Regions from separate parts of the Homo sapiens genome. Here region 1 is linked to region 2. The links come from fine-mapping of genetic effects on gene expression. A gene starts in region 2. The other region holds a variant in brackets. All regions are shown on one strand. Distances are from middle to middle.

Evidence for each region. PIP is the estimated chance that this variant, and not a neighbour inherited with it, causes the effect.
Region 1: its variant is fine-mapped to the expression of TRIM5 in whole blood (INTERVAL, PIP above 0.99).

Annotation. Positions count from the first base shown.
Region 1 is chr11:5,657,846-5,667,897 of GRCh38, forward strand. It overlaps TRIM5 (tripartite motif containing 5), which reads right to left. Exons shown (of 8, transcript NM_033034.3): 5 at 9,844-9,866; 6 at 8,136-8,236; 7 at 7,811-7,837; 8 at 5,350-7,550. The coding sequence ends at 6,964. It overlaps LOC107984302 (a long non-coding RNA gene), which reads right to left and starts at 2,987. Exons shown (of 2, transcript XR_001748100.1): 1 at 1,365-2,987. The variant G/A (reference allele first, on the strand shown) is at 4,492.
Region 2 is chr11:5,679,795-5,689,846 of GRCh38, forward strand. It overlaps TRIM5 (tripartite motif containing 5), which reads right to left and starts at 5,280. Exons shown (of 8, transcript NM_033034.3): 1 at 5,074-5,280; 2 at 1-444. The coding sequence starts at 383. TRIM22 (tripartite motif containing 22) reads left to right here and starts at 9,996. Exons shown (of 8, transcript NM_006074.5): 1 at 9,996-10,052. RefSeq lists enhancers at 1-206, 5,038-5,287, 9,676-10,052, 9,790-10,052.

The DNA of each region.
Region 1 (10,052 bases), 22 kb before region 2:
CCTCAAGTGATCTGAGAGCCTCGGCCTCCCAAAGTGCTGGGATTACAGGCCTGAGCCACCATGTCTGGCAAAATCCTTTTATTTAGAAAAATAAGTTTATTTTTCCCATTCAGAATGACAGCTGCTAATTATATGAGAGGGGTGCAGGGAAGTGCTGAAAAGAGAAAGGCACGGTCCCTGACAAAGCCTCCACTCCTGGGGCCTGGGCCCACAGACTTAGGTGAGGACAGGAATTTCCGTTTTTGTGCCCAAATGTTGCATTTTCCAAGATCACCCTGGCCTGCTATGCCCCCATCCTGTGCCTATAGCAGGAAGAGACACAAGCAACTGAATGTTAAGAGTAGCAAATTGGTAGAAGAACACACCAACAGGCACCAGCACATGCTGGAAGGCCAGCGACCAATGGACCGATGCAGAGATTGGTCGGGGATGTCAGAGGACAGCCTGGCTGCTGGGTGGCCCAACTCCAGGGAAATCCACCTTCCTACTCCATCTTCCTTCTGGCCTCTTCATCCACCTCGCTGAGAGCTACTACCACTCGATAAAAAACCTTGCACTCGTTCTCCAAGCCCACGTGTGATCCAATTTTTCTGATACGTTAAGGCAAGAACCTGGGATACAGAAAGCCCTCTGTCCTTGCAATAAGGCAGAGGGTCAGAGCAGATAAACACAAGCCACCTGCAGGCAGCAAAGAGGAAACTCCTCCAATACTGTTATATTTTTCTAAGTGTCTATTACCCTGAATATTCTGACTGCTTTTGTCACTTTCTAGTGCCTTCAGGTTTACTTGATTTTCACATTTTGTGCAAGGTTTCTAATGTTGATCTATGGGTGAGGACATGAAGTTTTGTTAGAAAGAGTACAGTGTGTGCATGTGTCTTTATAGCAGCATGATTTATAATCCTTTGGGCACATACCCAGTAATGGGATCGCTGGGTCAAATGTGGCACTATACACCATGGAATACTATGCAGCTACAAAAAAGGATGAGTTCATGTCCTTTGCAGGGACATGGATGAAGCTGGAAACCATCATTCTCAGCAAACTATCACAAGGACAGAAAACCAAACACCGCATGTTCTCACTTGTAGGTGGGAATTGAACAATGAGAACACTTGGACACAGGGCGGGGAACATCACACACTGAGGCCTGTGGTAGGGTGGGCGCCTGGGGGAGGGATAGTATTAGGAGAAATACCTAATGTAAATGACGAGTTAATGGGTGCACCAAACCAACACGGCACATGTATACATATGTAACAAACCTGCACATTGTGCACATGTACCCTAGAACTTAAAGTATAAAAAAAAAGAGTACAGTGTAACACATGTCCGCGGGGCCCACAGGAGCTGTAAACACTCACCCCTAGAGGTTGCTGTGGGGTTAGAGCCCCACAGCCTGCCCGTCTGCATTCTCCCCTAGAGCTTTGAGCAGCAGGGCACTGAAGCGAGCCATTCCCCCTGTCGCATGCCCTGCAAAGGGAACAAGGGAACTTTTCTCATTTCACTAATAACTCATTTTGTCAGCCCAAATTTGCAGAGCTTTATAACTCAGTGTCTTCCCCATCAGATTGCATTTCAAGATGCTAGGTGTCAAGTTGTTCTGGGTCATTATTCTACATGCTTAGAGCTTAGGTATAAGATAACTTCAACTAATAATTATAGAATTGCATGGAAATTCTAAGTACTCAGGTAAAGCACTGTATATTCAAAGCTGTAGAATGTATAACTGTAATTCATATTCTTTTAATTCAAATATTCTTGCTGTAGTAAACTGCACTAAGAATAAAACTGTAGTGACTGAGTGCCTAGATGGTACAGACCATAGAACATACTGAAACATTACCATCCCCAGGTTTTATTGTTTTGTAAGCTCCTGTTCTGGATTCTGTATAATTCTCTGAAGCCTTTTTTTTTTTTCAGGTAGTTAATTTGATTGAAATTAAATTCTTAATTTTTCCCTGCTACATACAGCAGCTGAAATCTTTAGCCTATTTTGGGCTGCTTCACATCTGTCTCAAACATGTACTTTAGAGACTTGACTAGAGTTTATACAATTTGGTATTTATTCCTCTATATCTCTTCTTTACGGGTACTCTACCATCATTTTCTAGTTGCTATGGCAGGCACAAATCATTCTTTTTTTTTTGAAACGGAGTCTCGCTCTGTCGCCCAGGCTGACGTGCAGTGGCGAGATCTCGGCTCACTGCAACCTCTGCCTCCTGGGTTCAAGCGATTCTCCTGCCTCAGCCTCCTGAGTAGCTGGGACTACAGGCGCCCACCACCATGCCCGGCTAATTTTTGTGTTTTTAGTAGAGACGGGGTTTCACCATATTGGCCTAGCTGGTCTCGAAATCCTGATCTTGTGATCTGCCCACCTCAGCCTCCCAAAGTGCTGGGATTACAAGCGTAAGCCACTGCGTCCGGCTCATTCTTGTTTTTCAAAGCAGCAAGTACATATATTGTTAACTGAGTTTTTAGTGTTCTACCCAGTAACAACTGAGGTCTGCCTTCAAGTGAAAAGCCACAGAAACAGGAAACTCCCCCAATACTGTTGTCTTTTTCTAAGTGTCTATTACCCTGAATATTCTGATTGCTTGTCACTTTCTAGTGCCTTCAGGTTTGATTTTTACATTTTGTCCAAGGTTTCTAATGTTGGATCTGTGGGTGAGGGCATGCAGTTTTATTAGAATATATACCTTCATTAATGGAAATAGAACCTCAGTTTTGCTCACTCTAGACAATCTTTAACTATATGTTAAATTGATTGATTTTACGCTTTCTTTCTCTACCAAACTGCCGGATTTTTTTTTCAGTGTGGTTGTAATGTTTTGCACTGCCACATAATTCAGAAAGAAAATAATGGTGGTGTTGGAGTATGGTGGTTAATACAAAGATATTATTAAGTTTAGATAGGCCGGGCGCAGTGGCTCACGCCTGTAATCCCAGCACTTTCGGAGGCCGAGGCGGGCGGATCTTGAGGTCAGGAGATCGGGACCATCCTGGCTAACACGGTGAAACCCTGACTCTACTAAAAATACCAAAAATTAGCTGGGCATGGTGGCAGGTGCCTGTAGTGCCAGCTACTCGGGAGACTGAGGCAGGAGAATGGCGTGAACCCAGGAGGTGGAGGTTGCAGTGAGCCGAAATCGCGCCACTGCACTCCAGCCTGGGCGACAGAGAGAGACTCCGTCTCAAAAAAAAAAAAAAAAAAAAAAAAAAAAAAAAAAAAAAAAAAAAAAAAGATTAGATATATGTTTAGGCATATTATGAGATTTAACTTATGTATCTTATTGATACTGAATAGGATCAAGGAGCTCAGAACATAATTGTTACCTTGTGACAAGTATAGCATCAAGAAGGAGTATTGGTTGCAATGTCCAAAGAAAAAAACCAAAGAGATCTCTTTTCCAAAGAGCTCTCCTCTGCCCGATGCTTATTCCATCCCATCCCTCCAACACATCATATAAACGTTCTTTTACTTTTCTCTCCCTTTGAATCTTAGAATTGGCTCTTCATCAGGGCACCTTCTCTTTAGCCCCTACGAACTCTCATTCTGCTTCTTCGTATTCTTTGTCCTCCCACTGGTTTCTGCTTGAGGCCTGCTCCCATTCTTTACTCAGTGTCCTGCAGAACAGTCTTCAAGCAATCCCTGTTTTTTTTCACAACCTCTTTTCTCTGTGCTTCTCCCCAGATTGTACCAAAATTCTAGCCAGATATGCCTAATTAATGGCCCAGCATAGATCTGAAGTCTCAGAATAGAAGACGACATAATTGTTACTCAGAGGTTCAGAAGTGATGGGGAGGGAACATCCTAGAACTGATACACAGGCAGAGAGAAAATCCACAGTTGACGTCCATTAGCCTTTTGGAGCACAGGTTGCCTTCTTCAGCCTTTTACTGAGAAGACGGAGTGTAACTCAGAGCAATTCATAAGCTTCATATTCTTTTCAGCTGAGAGGTTCATTACTAGGGCCAGGAGCATCTGTTTGAAAAAATCCTTCAGTGTGCAGATCTTTTCTGTTGTATATACAAATTCAGGTCTTTATTGTTGTGTAACTGGGTACTTCATCCTGAGCTGTGGGACTTGGCTTTCCAGGAAATGAAAAGGCATTAATGTCCCTGGAGAGTCACTTGCCAATAATTCAAGCTAGTCCAGACTGTTCCCAGTGAGTGAAAGCCTCAATCTTCATAGCATTGGGTGACAGGAAAGCAGAGGTAAAAGGGAAAATTTATAGCATCAACCTCCTCGGTTTCCCTGGATGGTGCTGAGGTAGAGAGGTGTGTGCACACACATAGTTACTGAAAATATTCACCTTGGAATCCCTTCTCTGACTAAAGTTACCACAAAGATAGAGACCTTAAAATTTCTGTGGGGAAGCAGGGTGAAGAGCAGAGACTATTTGATGAGGTAGACCATTAAAACAAAACAAAAAACTTCAGCTCAAAACTTGGGAAAGAGTTGGAAATAAAAATGCCAATAGACATAGG[G/A]ATCCTACCATGCCCTTCATAAACATCCGTTGCAAAAATAATTCTCCTCACTGAACAAGGAGAACAAGTATTTTTTTGTCATTTATGAAAATTACCATGCCTTTGTTACTTTAATGAAGAGTCAGGCTAACCTGGGCTCACAATTCACTTATCGATACCATTGTTGAGAAATGCCACATGTACTTCTGACTTTATCTGCATCACTGTGCAAAATACGTTTTTACTACTTGGCAAACAGGAAAAATTTACAATGAAATTAGAGTACTCAGAAATACTTAAAACAACTTAAGACTAGGCAGCTATGAAATTAAGAACAAAGATTTTTTTTCCCATTTATAAACACTTATTTTAAAACTTTCTACAAGAAAAATCTGTGATTTTTAACTTAGTTCTTGTATTTCTTCAAACGAAGGGAGAAAGATAATTTTGAAAAGAACTATTACATATTGTTAAAAATTATTGCTTTCAGTCACAGTGAGAGGGAACCAAAAATTAATAGACACCATAATGAGGCCGGGCATGGTGGCTCACACCTATAATCCTAGCACTTTGGGAGGTAAAGTGGGCAGATCGCCTGAGCCCAGGGCTTCGGGATCCGCCTGGGCAACATAGTGAAACCCTGTCTCTACCAAAAATACAAAAAATAACCAGGGCGTGGTGGTGCGTGACTGTAGTCCCAGCTACTCAGGAGGCTGAGGTGGAAGGATGAACCCTGGAGATGGAGGTTGCAGTGAGCCGAGATCGTGCCATTGCACTCCAGCTTGGGTGACAGAGACAAACCCTGTCTCAAAACAAACAAACAAACAAACAAACAAACAAACAAAAAAGCCCAACACCATAATGGATTACCCCTTACATGCTAGAAATGAGTGAAGCTATTCAAAAAACTCGTTTAACTTTTAAAAAACTACATCAGCTAATTTTATTATAATTATTTTTTACAATTAATAAACTGATTCCCACATAATTCAGTTTGTTTGATAAAGACTAATATGTAGCAACACTAGAATTACAATAAAATCCTAAATATATGTGTGTATTATATATAGAAGGCAGAATTGAAGTCATTTTGACAGTAGTATCTGAGATCTAAAAAATGAGAATTTAGTAAATCCAATCCTAGTTTCCCTGAAGGCACAACCTGTTCCATGAGACATTAACAGAGTTTATGTTTTTCAATAATTTGTAGAACAAGTACTTATTAGATCAAGACACTTAGATAGATGCTTTATACTTCAGGAATTTATTTTTTCACAATGATCCAAAGTATTAGATGAAGGTTTTTTGTTTTATTTTGCTTTTAATTGACAAATAATAAATATACATATTTATGTGGTACAGTGTGATGTTTTGATACATGTATACATTGCGTAATAACCGAACCAGGGTAATTAGCATATCCATCACCTCAAATATGTGTCATTTCTTTGTGTTGAGAACTTTCAAAATCCTCTCTTCTAGCTATTTCAAAATATATGCAATAGGTTATTGTTAACTCTAGTCACCCTACTATGCAATAAAACATTAGCACTTATTTAATGTGAAGTTTTTAATACAAAAATTATTTTAAGAAAATAAGCACAGGCTGGGCGCCGTGGCTCACGCCTGTAATCCCAGCACTTTGGGAGGCCGAGGCGGGTGGATCACCTGAGGTCAGAGGTTCTAGACGAGCCTAACCAACATGGGGAAACCCCGTCTCTACTGAAAATACAAATTTAGCCAGGGGTGGTGGTGGGCACCTGTAATCCCAGCTACTTGGGAGGCTGAGGCAGGAGAATTGCTTGAATCTGAGAGGTGGAGGTTGCAGTGAACCGAGATCGTGCCATTGCACTCCAGCCTGGGGAACAAGAGCAAAACTTCATCTCAAAAAAAAAAAAAAAGAAAAAAGAAAAGAAAAGGAAATAAGCACAGCCATTTAAGTATGTTATTCACAGTTACACTGCTGGTATATGGAGAGACAGGAGTTGAACTGAGATCCTCTAGATACAAAACCTCTATACTTAAGAGTATACCATTTATGATATTTTCTCTTTAACTCACAAATAAGGGCATCGAGGGTAAACTGACACAGGGCTAAGGACTCATTCATTGGTGAACAATTATCACACGATGATATAGAAAGGCTGTTGAAAAGCTTTTCTTCATCTTCTTAGTCAGTGTCAGAGGCAATTGGGTGATAAATATCTGGCAGAAGTAATACCTAAATAGCGGTCTCATTTTATGAGGTATAGGTCAGTTTTCCTTAGGAGTACGGAAAATGATGAAAAAAATTGCTATCAAATGTCAATAAAATATTGGGGACAATATGGCACAAGGCAATTATTACATTTTACTGATGAGTGAAGGACGTTCAAATAGAAAGAAGGGAGACAGCAAGGAAAAGATGGTTAAAATGATGCAAATGAGTTCAGGTGTATGAGATGCACCTGGACAAGAGGTGCTGTACAGAAGGGGCTGAGTGTGTAAGAAGGTTCAAGAGCTTGGTGAGCACAGAGTCATGGGGACTCCACATTTTCTAGGATTTAAATATGGAAATACAGGCTGAGAAAAAGAACAGTGAGAAAACTTATAGATGAGAAATCCATGGTTTGTGATATTGAAGAATGAGACAGTGCAAGCCTCATAGTCTAGGAAAACTCCAACACGATCAGGACAAATAATCACAGAGAGGGGCACAATGAAAGGAACAGAAGGAGTATGGAAGGAACTATCCTGGAAAGCACTACATTTAACTCCTTCCTCTAACCCTATAACCCAGTAGCCGTATTTAGGTTGATAATTTTCATTTTTTTCAATATTACACATTGCATCAGGTTGGAAGCCAGCACATACCCCCAGGATCCAAGCAGTTTTCTTGGACACGTCTACCTCCCAGTAATGTTTCCCTGATGTGATACTTTGAGAGCCCAGGATGCCAGTACAATAATTGAAATTCACAAATGTCTGGTATCTTGTCCCTCGTGCCCCATATATTATCTGTGGTTTCGGAGAGCTCACTTGTCTCTTATCTTCAGAAATGACAGCACATGAAATGTTGTTTGGAGCCACTGTCACATCAACTGTAGAAAAATTAACAGGTCAGCTAAGGGATATAATGTAACTTTATTTGTGATATGAGAGAAATCTTGATAAAGACTTGAGAGAAAACTGGGAGGAACCTTGTTTAGAAGTTATAAGGAGGGGTAAGTTATGTGTGTCTTGGAAGGAGAATCATAAATCTTAAAACATGAGCCTAATAGAGAACATAAAATTCTAAAAGATAAAGATAATAATAATGATAAGCCGCAGGGTGGCTTATGATAATGTGACTTCTCCTTACCCCAGTAGCGTCGGACATCTGTCAGCTCTGAAATGATAAAAATGCACAATATTGAATACAAACAAAGGAGTCAGCACTGAAATTCATTTTCTCTCCAGATTAGGGAAAGAGTAGGTATGCCCTATGGTAGGGCAGTAAATTGCTGAATGATGAGATGAAACAGCCACCTAGCCATTTCCCATTAAATATAATCCCATCAGCAGCAGACAATATCTATCCTCCCCTATCCCCTCTATCCATATTTGGAAACTGCACCCTCTTCCCTATTTAGCACCCTAACACCACTTGAATTCCATAACCCTGTTGTTGATCTAGCTCTCCTCACCTCTAAACACTTCTAGCATTCCTTTCAGATCAGGAGCTCGAAACACTCTCCTTTGATTTTTTGGAAAAGTTTCTGGCTTCTTCAAGGTCACGTTCTCCGTCCTAAGAATTAAAAAAAAAAAAAAAAACTTCCAAACCTTTGACCTTGTGTCCGTGGAACACCCCTGACTTCCTATCATTTCAACCCATTGAGGCACTTGAACTCTCTTCTTGGGGATCCTGAGAAGGGAGAGTGCAAACTCTTGACCCTGGAGGCAAACAAAATGTTCTCATGTTTGCCTTCCCACTTACTTTCTGTGAGAACGTGGGAAGATCTTAACCTCTCAGAAGCACAGTTTCTTCCTTCTAAAATGAAATAATTAACCTCTCCCTGTCTACATTCTTAAACTCATAGGACATAAAAAAAAAAAAAAGGATTTTAAAACAAAACAAAACAAAACTTTGGTGCCTTACAAAAGAAACCCTAACATTTAATGGGTGGAAACATCATCGCTATGTATGTTGAGTTCCCAGGGAGATGGTTAGAAAGTGAGGTTGCAGAACCTGGCTCCTGGGTGTTTGACACATATCAAGAGAGGAATCCTGTTTGGAGAGGCCTAAGACCTTCAAAGCTATTCCCAGCAGGGAGGTACTCAGATAACATCTAAGGTTTCAGATTTCCGGGAAAAATTACAAACACTTGGCAAATGAGAAATTATGTGCACTAAACTATTACTGGCCTGAATATCGTGTGGTTAGAAAGAACTTGATACCACCACGTAGGTGTGCGAGGTGTGCGATTTTAGACACAAGAATAGCACCTTTTTATGCTCTTGTAAAGAATGCAACTGAGGTGGATCAATTCTTTGTACCATGACCACATATTATCCAGAATATTATTTTGAAATATTATTCCGGAAATAAACATCTGATTTTGGAAATCTAAATATAAATGAAGAGGAACTGGTCTTTTTCCAGGAGGAAAATATAAACATGTGGGAATTGTCCCAATGGACAATTAGGGGTATATAAGAGAAAAAGAAGATATGGCCCATCCAAAATAAATCAAGAACCTATTAAATACAGAAAGAGAACTAGATGTAGGTAATAAAATGGTGATGGCGCAGGGGTCCAACACTGCAACACCTTCTCCCTGAAACCACTACTGACCCACACTCCGAGTCTCCACCACCCAAATTTTCTACCATAGAATCTGGTCTATTCCTTTTCTTTTTTTTAATTTTATTTAATTTTATTGATTTTTCTAAGACAGAGTCTCACTTTGTCGCCCAGACTGGAGTGCAGTGGCATGGTCTTGGCTCACTGCAACCTCTGCCTCCTGGATTCAAGCAATTCTCCTGCCTCAGCCTCCCGAATAGCTGGGATTACAGGCACGGGCCACCACGCCCCCCTAATTTTTGTATTTTTTTGATAGAGACAGGGTTTTGCCACGTTGGCCAGGCTAGTCTCAAACTCCTGATCTTCCTGACTCGGCGTCCCAAAGTGCTGGGATTATAGGCTTGAGCCACCACACCTGGCCAAATCTGGTCTATTCTTAATAGTTATAGAACATTCGAATGCTGATTTATGACCAGAAATTTATGATAAAACAATATCGAAATTTTTCTGCCCTGGGAGATGTTTTATTCTAATTAAACCCAGGACAATTCTAATGGCTATAAATCTCTCCTCACTGCACAAAAGGACCATCTCTGTCCTCCCACACATACCTTTTTATGACGCCATCCACACCCTAGGAAGAAGAGAGAAAACATCAATTAAGAAAGAAAGAGTCTCTCCTCACTTATAAAGCTTCATCACATTTCCCCCGGTTCCTAATGTGCTGAGAATGGAGATGGTGACAGTGTGAAAGACAAAAAAGCAAAGATAAGACTCAAGGCAATCATCCCAGAAGACTCATGTGAGATTTCCAAGTTCC
Region 2 (10,052 bases):
GTGTGGTGACCACGGTGCTCCTGAGACCGCTCACAAAGCCAGCAAATGACCTTCCCGTCCTCCTGACAGAAGAGTAGAAGTTTCTCTCCATGGCGTGCACAATGATCAACTTTCTGCCCCTCTGGGCTCAACTTGACCTCCCTGAGCTTCTCCACTATGTTGGCTACATGCCGATTAGGCCGTATGTTCTCAGGCTGGTAACTGATCCGGCACACAGGGCAGCTACTCTCTCCTTTGTCTAGCATGGACTTCTTGTGGTTTGCAGTGAGGCATGCTTGGCAGAAGCTGTGGCCGCAGTCCAGGCTCAGGGGTTGTGTCAGGAGTTCCAGGCAGATGGGGCAGGTCACCTCCTCCTTTACATTAACCAGGATTCCAGAAGCCATAGTAGCTATTCCACTGCTCCTGCCTGTCCTGGCTGCTGAGGTTCCTCTTGTTCACAGATCCCTGCATGATTGGGAAGGTTAAAATGGGACCAAGTAAGAAAGGTAGAAATAGAAAGGATATTGATTGTGCACAATTAGAAAATGGGCAAGATGAAAATAATTAAGGACAAAAAAAGGGGAGAAATAAGAAAAGGTGTTTGGTTACCTGGTAATAAGGGCTTTTCATAATCACCTTAAATACTTTACTGCCAGTTCATGTCATATGACAAATTCTGTTCTTATCTGTGCATTGGTTATCATTTTTCTTTACTTTCAATGAATAGAAAACAGACTGAGGTCTTTTCTACCAAGATCTTTGTGTGACCCATCATCTCTCCTGGCTTTTCTTTCCCACGCCAAAACACATCCTCAGTATTAAAATCACCAAACAGCTTATGCCTCAGGGCTTTCACATTTGCTCTTCTCTCAGCATGAAATGTTTCTCTGATGTTAGTACGATTTTATTAAATTCTCTCCTTACATGTTATATTATCAAAAATACCTGCTCTGACTACCTTATGTGCAGTGTAACAAATCTCACCATGCACTGTACGTTTGCAATGATTGCTCTTATTATCAGCAGAGTGAATGACTGTTTCATCAAATGTATAAATAGACATAATAAGTGATTTACAAAAATTATTTATCTTCAGTATGGTGACCTGAGATGACCTCGTATTCAGGGTCCTCTTTCACTGGCCTCTTTGCTACTCTTTTGGTTAATCAATGACAAATGGAGATAACAGCATATATCCAATTAATACCCAGAGCAATTGGGGTGTGGAAGTAGAGGAATCCACAACAGCTGGGAGGTTCTGAGGAGTCTCATCCTGAAAGTTTGCCAAGGACATTTATTGGAGCCTAAAGGTGTAGACATGGTGTAGAGGGTGATGATAGAGAAATACTCAGTGGACCACACATGTTGGATACTTGAAAACTAGAAGCACAGAGGCAGTGGATATCAGTCTTGAGAGAGAAGTCTCAAAATATTAGATGAGATGATTCTGTTCCCGGAACAAACGGAGGGTCGGCTGCTGCTTCTTGCGGCCCAATAACGAGATGCAGATTTACTGGGAAAGAAGCGAATTTTTATTTCTGCGTACAGGGAGAAGGCCTAGAAAATATCTCCAGACCAACTCAAAATTACAAAGTTTTCCAGAGCTTATATACCTTCTAAGCTATACGTCTACGTATAGGTGTGCATTATTCATCTAAAAACATAAGTGATTAACTTCTTCAAATCTATAACTAAGGTCTGAGTTTTAAGACCTTCCTCTGGTGCCTCAGTAAATTTACCTAATCTAGATGGGTCCGGGTGCTGGGGTGATTACCCTTATCTTGTCTCTCCTGCTAAATCATTAAGGTTTGCGGAGTTCCTTCAGACCCTCAATAAACTTGTTTGTGGAGGCCTGGGAGTTCCTTCAGACCCCCATAAAACTTGTTTAATCCTAAACAGGTCCTAATCGATTCCTTCGTTATCTTGTCATGCTTCAAGGCCCAGGAAAGGCCTGGGCAAAACTCTCAGTGGGCTTCTGTTACATTCCAGCCTTTGTATAAGGGCACTGGCTCTATCAGCTTTTAATATTTTTTTTTCTTTTTTGAGACGGAGTCTTGCTCTGTCGCCCAGGCTGGAGTGCAATGGCACAATCTCGGCTCACCACAACCTCTGCCTCCCAGGTTCCAGTGACTCCTCTGCCCCAGCCTCCCGAGCAGCTGGGACCACAGGCACGCACCACCACACCCGGCTAATTTTTGTATTTTTGGTACAGATGGGGTTTCACCATATTGGCCAGTCTGGTCTCCAACTCCTGACCTTGTGATCCACCTGCCTCGGCCTCCTAAAGTGCTGGGATTACAGGCGTGAGCCACCGTGCCCGGCTTCAGCTTTTAATATTTAACTTAACCAGACGGGTGTGGTGGCTCACGCTTGTAATCCTAGTACTTTGGGAGGCCAAGGCAGGCGGATCACCTGAGGCTGGGAGTTCAAGACCAGCCTGGCCAACATGGTGAAATTCTGTCTCTACTAAAAATACAAAATGAGCTGAGCTTGGTGACAGGTGCCTGTAATCCCAGCTACTTGGGTATTCTTTCCACATGCTTCTCCTGCTCTTCGTATCTCACCTAAGCTCTGCTTTTGGGGGGCAGATACGGCCCACGGAGAGGGAGGAGCAAGGTTAATGATTTTTAAGAAAATCCAGTAGTTCCCTGAGTCTGGACTTGGTGCCCTAGTAGAGGCAAACAGATGCTGTCACCAGGGAAGCCCTGATGAAATGACTGGGAAAGTTATTTTTCTTAACGTTTTTCTTTATTCCCTTTATGTATAGACAAAGTTGCTTAAGAAGAAGCCAGACTGCCCAGCATGGTCCAGATCTTGACCCCTGACCAGATCCAAGGGGGAAATTAGACCCCCGAACCAGCGTATATACTGGAACTGACAATCCCTAATTGCCTTTAGATCATTAACATATCACTAGAGTGTTAAGTTACCCCCTCCCCCACACGACACCAAACAAGAAAATCTCCACCATTTTGTGTGCCTGGGTTGTATTGAGAGGTGACAGCATGCTGGCAGTCCTTGCAGCCCTCACTCGCTCTTGGCGCCTCCTCTGCCTGGGCTCCCACTTTGGCGGCACTTGAGGAGCTCTTCAGCCCACCGCTGCACTGTGGGAGCCCCTTTCTGGGCTGGCCAAGGCCGGAGCTGGCTCCCTCAGCTTGCAGGGAGGTGTGGAGGGAGAGGGGCGAGCGGGAACCGGGGCTGCGCGCCGCGCTTGTGGGCCAGCTGGAGTTCCGGGTGGGCGTGGGCTTGGTGGGCCCCGCACTCGGAGTGGCCGGCCGGCCCCGCTGCCCCGGGCAGTGAGCGGCTTAGCACCTGGGCCAGCAGCTGCTGTGCTCAATTTCTCGCCGGGCCTTAGCTGCCTCCCCGCGGGGCAGAGCTCAGGACCTGCAGCCCACCATGCCTGAGCCTCCCCACGACCCCTTGGGCTCCTGTGCTGCGCGAGCGTCCCTGACGAGCACCGCCCCCTGCTCCACGGCGCCCAGTCCCATCACCACCCAAGGGCTGAGGAGTGCAGGTGCGTGGCATGGCACAGGACTGGCAGGCAGCTCCACCTGCGGCCCGGTGCAGGATCCACTGCGTGAAGCCAGTGGGGTTCCTGAGTCTGGTGGGGACTTGCAGAACCTTTATGTTTAGCTAAGGGATTGTAAATGCACCAATCAGCACCCTGTGTCTAGCTCAGGGTTTGTGAATGCACCAATCGACACTCTATATCTAGCTACTCTGGTGGGGACTTGGAGAAACTTTATGTCTAGCGAAGGGATTGTAAATACACCAATCGGCACTCTGTATCTAGCTCAAGGTTTGTAAACACACCAATCAGCACCCTGTGTCTAGCTCGGGGTTTGTGAATGCACCAATCGACACTCTGTATCTAGCTACTCTGGTGGGGATGTGGAGAATCTTTGTGTCTACACTCTGTATCTAGCTAATCTAGTGGGGACTGGAGAACTTTTGTGTCTAGCTCAGGGATTGTAAATGCACCAATCAGTGCCCTGTCAAAACAGACCACTCGGCTCTCTGTAAAATGGACCAATCAGGAGGATGTGGGTGGGGCCAGATAAGAGAATAAAAGCAGGCTGCCTGAGCCAGCAGTGGCAACCTGCGCTGGTCCCCTTCCACACTATGGACGCTTTGTTATTTTCCTCTTTGCAATAAATCTTAATACTGCTCACTCTTTGGGTCCACACTGCCTTTATGAGCTGTAACACTCACCGCGAAGGTCTGCAGCTTCCCTCCTGAGCCAGCGAGACCACGAACCCACCAGAAAGAAGAAACTCTGAACACATCCGAACATCAGAAGGAAGAAACTCCGGACATGCCGCCTTTAAGAACTGTAACACTCACTGCAAGCGTCCGCGGCTTCATTCTTGAAGTCAGTGAGACCAAGAACCCACCAATTCCGGACACAGTATGAAGACATGTGTTTATAAACAGAGGTGGCACAACTGGAGTTCCACCCTATAGGCTAACACTCCTTTCTCTCCCCGTACTCAGTTCTTTTAAAGCCAATGCTTTCCACTGTTTTGGGGGAGGGGGCTTTAGAGAAGGAGCTCTCTTACTCTCCACTCCTAGCAAGAAATAAAACCTGCTTGCCTTTTTTCCCATTATCTTTGTAACCAATATGAACTAGGGAAAGAACTCCATTTACAGTGACAATGACAGGACTACAGAACTGGACAGCTGTCACACCATGAAGGCTGATGTCACAGAGCCAGGCCAAGGTGATGAGAACTGACCTGTAGAGTTATGCAGAAACACTACATTAGTAAACTAATAGGCATTAAATCATTAGGATTCCAAGGCCCCTGTCTTTGCCCTTGTTGTTGGGAGAAGACACTGAAAGAGAGAATTCTGGCTCTCTACAGCAAAGTTCAATTAAAAAGTATAGAGTAGGGAGGGGATGGGGAGAGAGTCAGCATGGAAAAATAACCAGCCTTCGGGAAACAAAGCCCTTCACTTTAAAGCTCTCCCTTCTTTCAAATCTGCCTGCCCGCCAGGCGGCTCTGTTCCCCTCAGTCAGCTCTGGCAGCAAGAAGTCTGTGAACTGTGTCTTTTCCCCACCCCCGCACAGCTTTTCAGATAAGTTAAACTCACCAAGGTAAATACAGTTTTGTCCCAAAGACTTCCTACTTCTGCCCTCCACAAAATCACTCAATACACCTTCAGACACCAGTGCAGAAGTGGTGATTCTGGGGAGAAGAGTGAAGACAGGCCAGGGAAGACGTGGTTAGGATTCACTCACCAATCCACGGGCCTGATCTGCACAAAGGAATTTTCCTAGAGGAACCGCAGGAAATTCTTGCTCACACTCAGGGCAGGAAAGTGAAAGATAAACTATGGGCCAATGGCATTTCTCCACGTAGGGCCTGGTGAGTCCCGCCCTCTGAATGAATCAGCCGGGCCGTGTAGCTGTGCTGTTCACAGGAGGAGCCGTGGGAACTAGAGGCATTCCCACTCAATCTCCCTTTTCTCTTGAGTCTCAGGATCTTGTTATCATGCCACTTCTTCTGACATAGTTTCAGATTAACCCAGCCAAGTATTAAAAATTAGAAAAGGTGCCCTTTTTCGAAATTCTTCCAATGTGCTCCTCTTGCTCCTGATCTCACAGCTGAGTTCTGCTTCTGGGTGACAGATATGGCCCAAAGAGAAGGAAGAACAAAGTTAATGATTTTTAGAGAATTGCAGTAGATTTCTGGTCTGGACTTAAAAATCTTATAGGACCTATGAACAGAAAAGGAGCTGCAGGTAGGAGAGATGTCATATTATTAAGACTCCGAAACCCAGAGAGGACAGGATGCTAGAAATTTATCTGGAGAGGGCCGGGCGCGGTGGCTCACGCCTGTAATGCCAGCACTTTGGGAGGCTGAGGCGGGCGGATCACAACGTCAGGAGATCGAGACCATCCTGGCTAACACGGTGAAAACCCATCTCTAATAAAATAAAATAAAATAAAATAAAATAAAAAATTAGCCGGGCATGGTGGCGGGTGCCTGTGGTCCCAGCTATTCCGGAGGCTGAGGCAGCAAAATGGCGTGAACCCGGGAGGCGGAGCTTGCAGTGAGCAGAGATCGCGCCACTGCACTCCAGCCTGGGCGACAGAGTGAGACTCCGTCTCAAAAAAAAAAAAAAAAAAAAAAAAAAAAAGAAGTTTATCTGGAGAGCGATAAAGAAATACCACATTATTTCTTTCAACTATTCACTTTCAAAGAACTCTCCAACTTCCCGCTGTTGTCTTTTCCAAAGTATCTATTGCATCCCTGAGCAGGGCCAGGCCTTCCTCTCTCTTCTCTTCTGGTTACTATGCAAAACTGGTCCAAAAGGCTGAACTGTGGTCCATGTACCATAGCCTCCCTTCTAAGCTTTCCCTTACTGGAACATCTCAGGAAGTCCACACTGGAACTAGGATCATTGGTAGAGAGGAGTATTTAGTTTGAAAATGAAAATGCCTCAGGAGAAGGCAATGGGGAGCACTGCAGTGGGCAGCCTGTTATCACTTAATTCCATCATCAGTAACCTCATACCCCCTCCACACTGTACCCCCGCAGCTTTCTGTTTCATGAAATCAGGTAGGGGGCTTTTGCATTTTGTTCTTTATTGTCTCAGATTTACTAGAATATGGTGTATATAAGGAGTAATATTTAAATAGATATGAAGATATATAGCTATTAATCTAATTTTAATTGAATATCTTGATGTCACATTTCTGTTCTATTCTTGCTGTAAAGATAACTGCTGTGTCACCTAGTTTAATTCAAATATTCTTCTGGCATTAGTAATAATTATGTGGCAGTAATAATTATAGTAATAATTATAATAATTAGTATTATTAATAATTACAATTATTAATAGTTACAATTATAATTAATATTACTAATTGTTATTTAGTAATAATTATGTGGCATTAGTAATAATTATGTAATGATTACATTTGCAGTGGCTCACACCTGTAATCCTCGCACTTCGGGAGACCAAGGCGGGTGGATCACTTGAGGTCAGGAATTTGAGACCAGCCTGACCAACATGGTGAAACCTCATCTCTACGAAAAATACAAAAATTAGCCAGGTGTAATGGCAGATGCCTGTAATCCCAGCTACTCAGGAGGGTGAGGAAGGAGAATTGCGTGAACCCGGGAGGTGGAGGTTGAAGTGAGCCGAGATCATGCCACTGCACTCCAGCCTGGGCAATAGAGTGAGACTCTGTCTCAAAAAAAAAAAAAAAAAAAAAAAAAAAAAAAAAAAAAAAAAGTAATTATGTAAATTTTTAAACAAATTTTAAACGATTTTTTAAAATATCCTCTCTGTTTTCTTCCTAAGTATTATTCAGACTCTAACCATATTTACTCTTATTTTGCTCTTTTTCTTGAAGAGAAAAATGTTAAATATCCATGGACCCAAAGGTAGAGATATTTCATTTGATTCCTTTTCAAGCAGGAAAGCAGGATATATAAGGTTTACAGGCTGGGCGCGGTGGCTCACGCCTGTAATCCCAGCACTTTGGGAGGCCAAGGTGGGTGGATCATGAGGTCAGGAGATTGAGACCATCCTGGCTAACAAGGTGAAACCCCGTCTCTACTAAAAATACAAAAAATTAGCCAGGCGCGGTGGCGGGCGCCTGTAGTCCCAGCTACTCGGGAGGCTGAGGCAGGAGAATGGCGTGAACCCGGGAAGCGGAGCTTGCAGTGAGCCGAGATCGCACCACTGCAGTCCGCAGTCCGGCCTGGGCGACAGAGCGAGACTCCGTCTCAAAAAAAAAAAAAAAAAAAAGGGTTTACAGAGAAAACACAGAGCTCCAACAATAATATATTTTTTCTACAATTTAGAACATAGGTTAGAATATGGAGCCTGCCAACATGCTCTACTCTGGTGATAAACTGTGTGTGGTGCATTCAGTTTTTCTATTGGCCCACGTTTTCTGGTATCTTGTCAGGACCTAATATTACTACTGTTTTCTCTCAGCTGCAATTAATACTTCATGAGATAAATCAGACCAGGATGAAAGTTCACTTCAGATGTTCAAAGCCAGACGAGAATAAAAGGATGGCTATGAGATCTATGGAAGTGCTGAGAAGGGAAGAAATAATGGACAGAGAACAGGTCTCTGGATAAATGAGTTCATTCACTTTGTCCATTGTGGTTGACACTCGGACTCCACTCTGTGCACTCCAGAAAAAACACATTCACTCACTGAGCGCTCACTCCCCTACAAATGTCAACAAGATATTCTATTCAAACATGGAATATACCTAAAATTACATCTCTTGCTTATTTATCTTCAAGAAGAAATAAGAAAATTTCACGCCTGTCTTAGTCAAGGTTCATCATAGCAATAGAACCACTAAACTATGAATTTATTTGGAAAGAAACTTGAGAAATGTCTCAGGTGATTCTGGAGACTGGCAAATCCAAAGTCTGCAAGGTAGGCCAAGAGGCTCTGGATCCAAGAAGGAGTCAACGTTATAGCTCACGCCTGAGGTTTGCCTGCTGGTAATATTCCCTCTTCTCGGGGAGAAGTCAGTTTTTTCTTCTATTCTGGCTTTCAGCTGATTGAATAAGGTCCTCATAGATATAAGTGAGTAGGAAAGAATTTATAGCCAGGATTAGCTTATTATTCTGTGAGCAACAAATAATACCAAAATATCTATTATTGAAATAATAAACATTGATTTCTCAGTCATCCTACATGTGTATCATTGATTAAAGTATGAAGATGGCCATGCTCCATAGTGTCAGTCAGGGATCCATGTTATGGAAGCTCCATGAGTTGCCTTTTTTTTTCTTTTTTTTTGGGTGTGTGTGTGTATGTGTTGTGTGGTGTTTGTTTGTTTGTTTTTTGTAGAGACAGGGTCTTACTATGTCACCCAGGCTGCAGTGCTATGGTGCAATGACGCAATCTTGGCTCAATGCAACCTCCACCTCCTGGGCTCAAGCCATCCTCCCATCTCAGTTTCCTGAGTAGCTGGGACTACAGGTGCACATCACCACACCCAGCTATTTTTTTTTTTTTAATTTTTCTTAGAGATGGGATTTCACCATGTTGCCCAGGCTGGTGTTGAAGTCCTGGACTCAAGTGATCCACCCACCTGGGCCTCCCAGAGTGCTGGGATTACAGGCATGAGACACCACAGGCCTCCATCAGTTTTTGATGGCATTATCTGGCACATGCAGTTAAACAAGAATACAATAGACAACAGGGTACAGAAGTATGTGCATGACGTATAACATGTTTCAGTGCTGCTTTTTAATTGATTGTGTAAAAATGACCAAACTTTTCTTAGAGAAGCAGGGAAAAGTGGAAAAATTATGAAGGCATGAGAGTAACTCAATGAATGATTATAATTAAACAGCATCATCTGTTAACTTCCATGTTCTCACCTGCCTCAGTGGCTGGGTAACATGACACTGACACAGTTTTACCTCTATTACTCTCTGGAATCCATCCTCATCTGGTCTGTCTGGATTAGGAGCAGGAAGTGATAATTAATTGATGGACTCTTAAGATTTAATGACATTTTGAGAACATTTTTTTCAATGGGCTCACACTAAAGATCCTTTTATTTATAAAAATAATTTTTTTACCATTCACAATGTCAGCTGCTAATACTCATCTTGTCAGCCCAAATTTGTAGAGCTTTATAACTGAGTATCTTCCTCGTCAGACTGCATTTCAAGAAGCTAGGTCCCAAGTCTCTGGATCTTTATTTTCCTGGCTTAGGTCTTAAATATAAGATAAATTCGACTAATAATTATAGGACTGCATTGGAATTCTAAGTATTCAGGCAAGCTGTATAACTGTAATTCACATTCTTTTTATTCAAATATTCTTGCTTGAGTAAACCACAGTAAGAATAAGGAAGTAGTGACTGAGTGCCTTGCCAGTACAGCAGATGCTAGAACATAATGTAGCATTACTTTCCCCAGGGTTTATTGTTATGTAAGTTCTTGTTCAGCTTCCTTTGTTTTCTTTCACTTCTGAGAATTTAACTTTCGTTTCTCACTCAGCTCCTGTGGGGAAACTCATTTGTGGAGACCAGCCCTCTGGCTTGGTGAGTGAATCTGGTTTACACCGGCTCCTG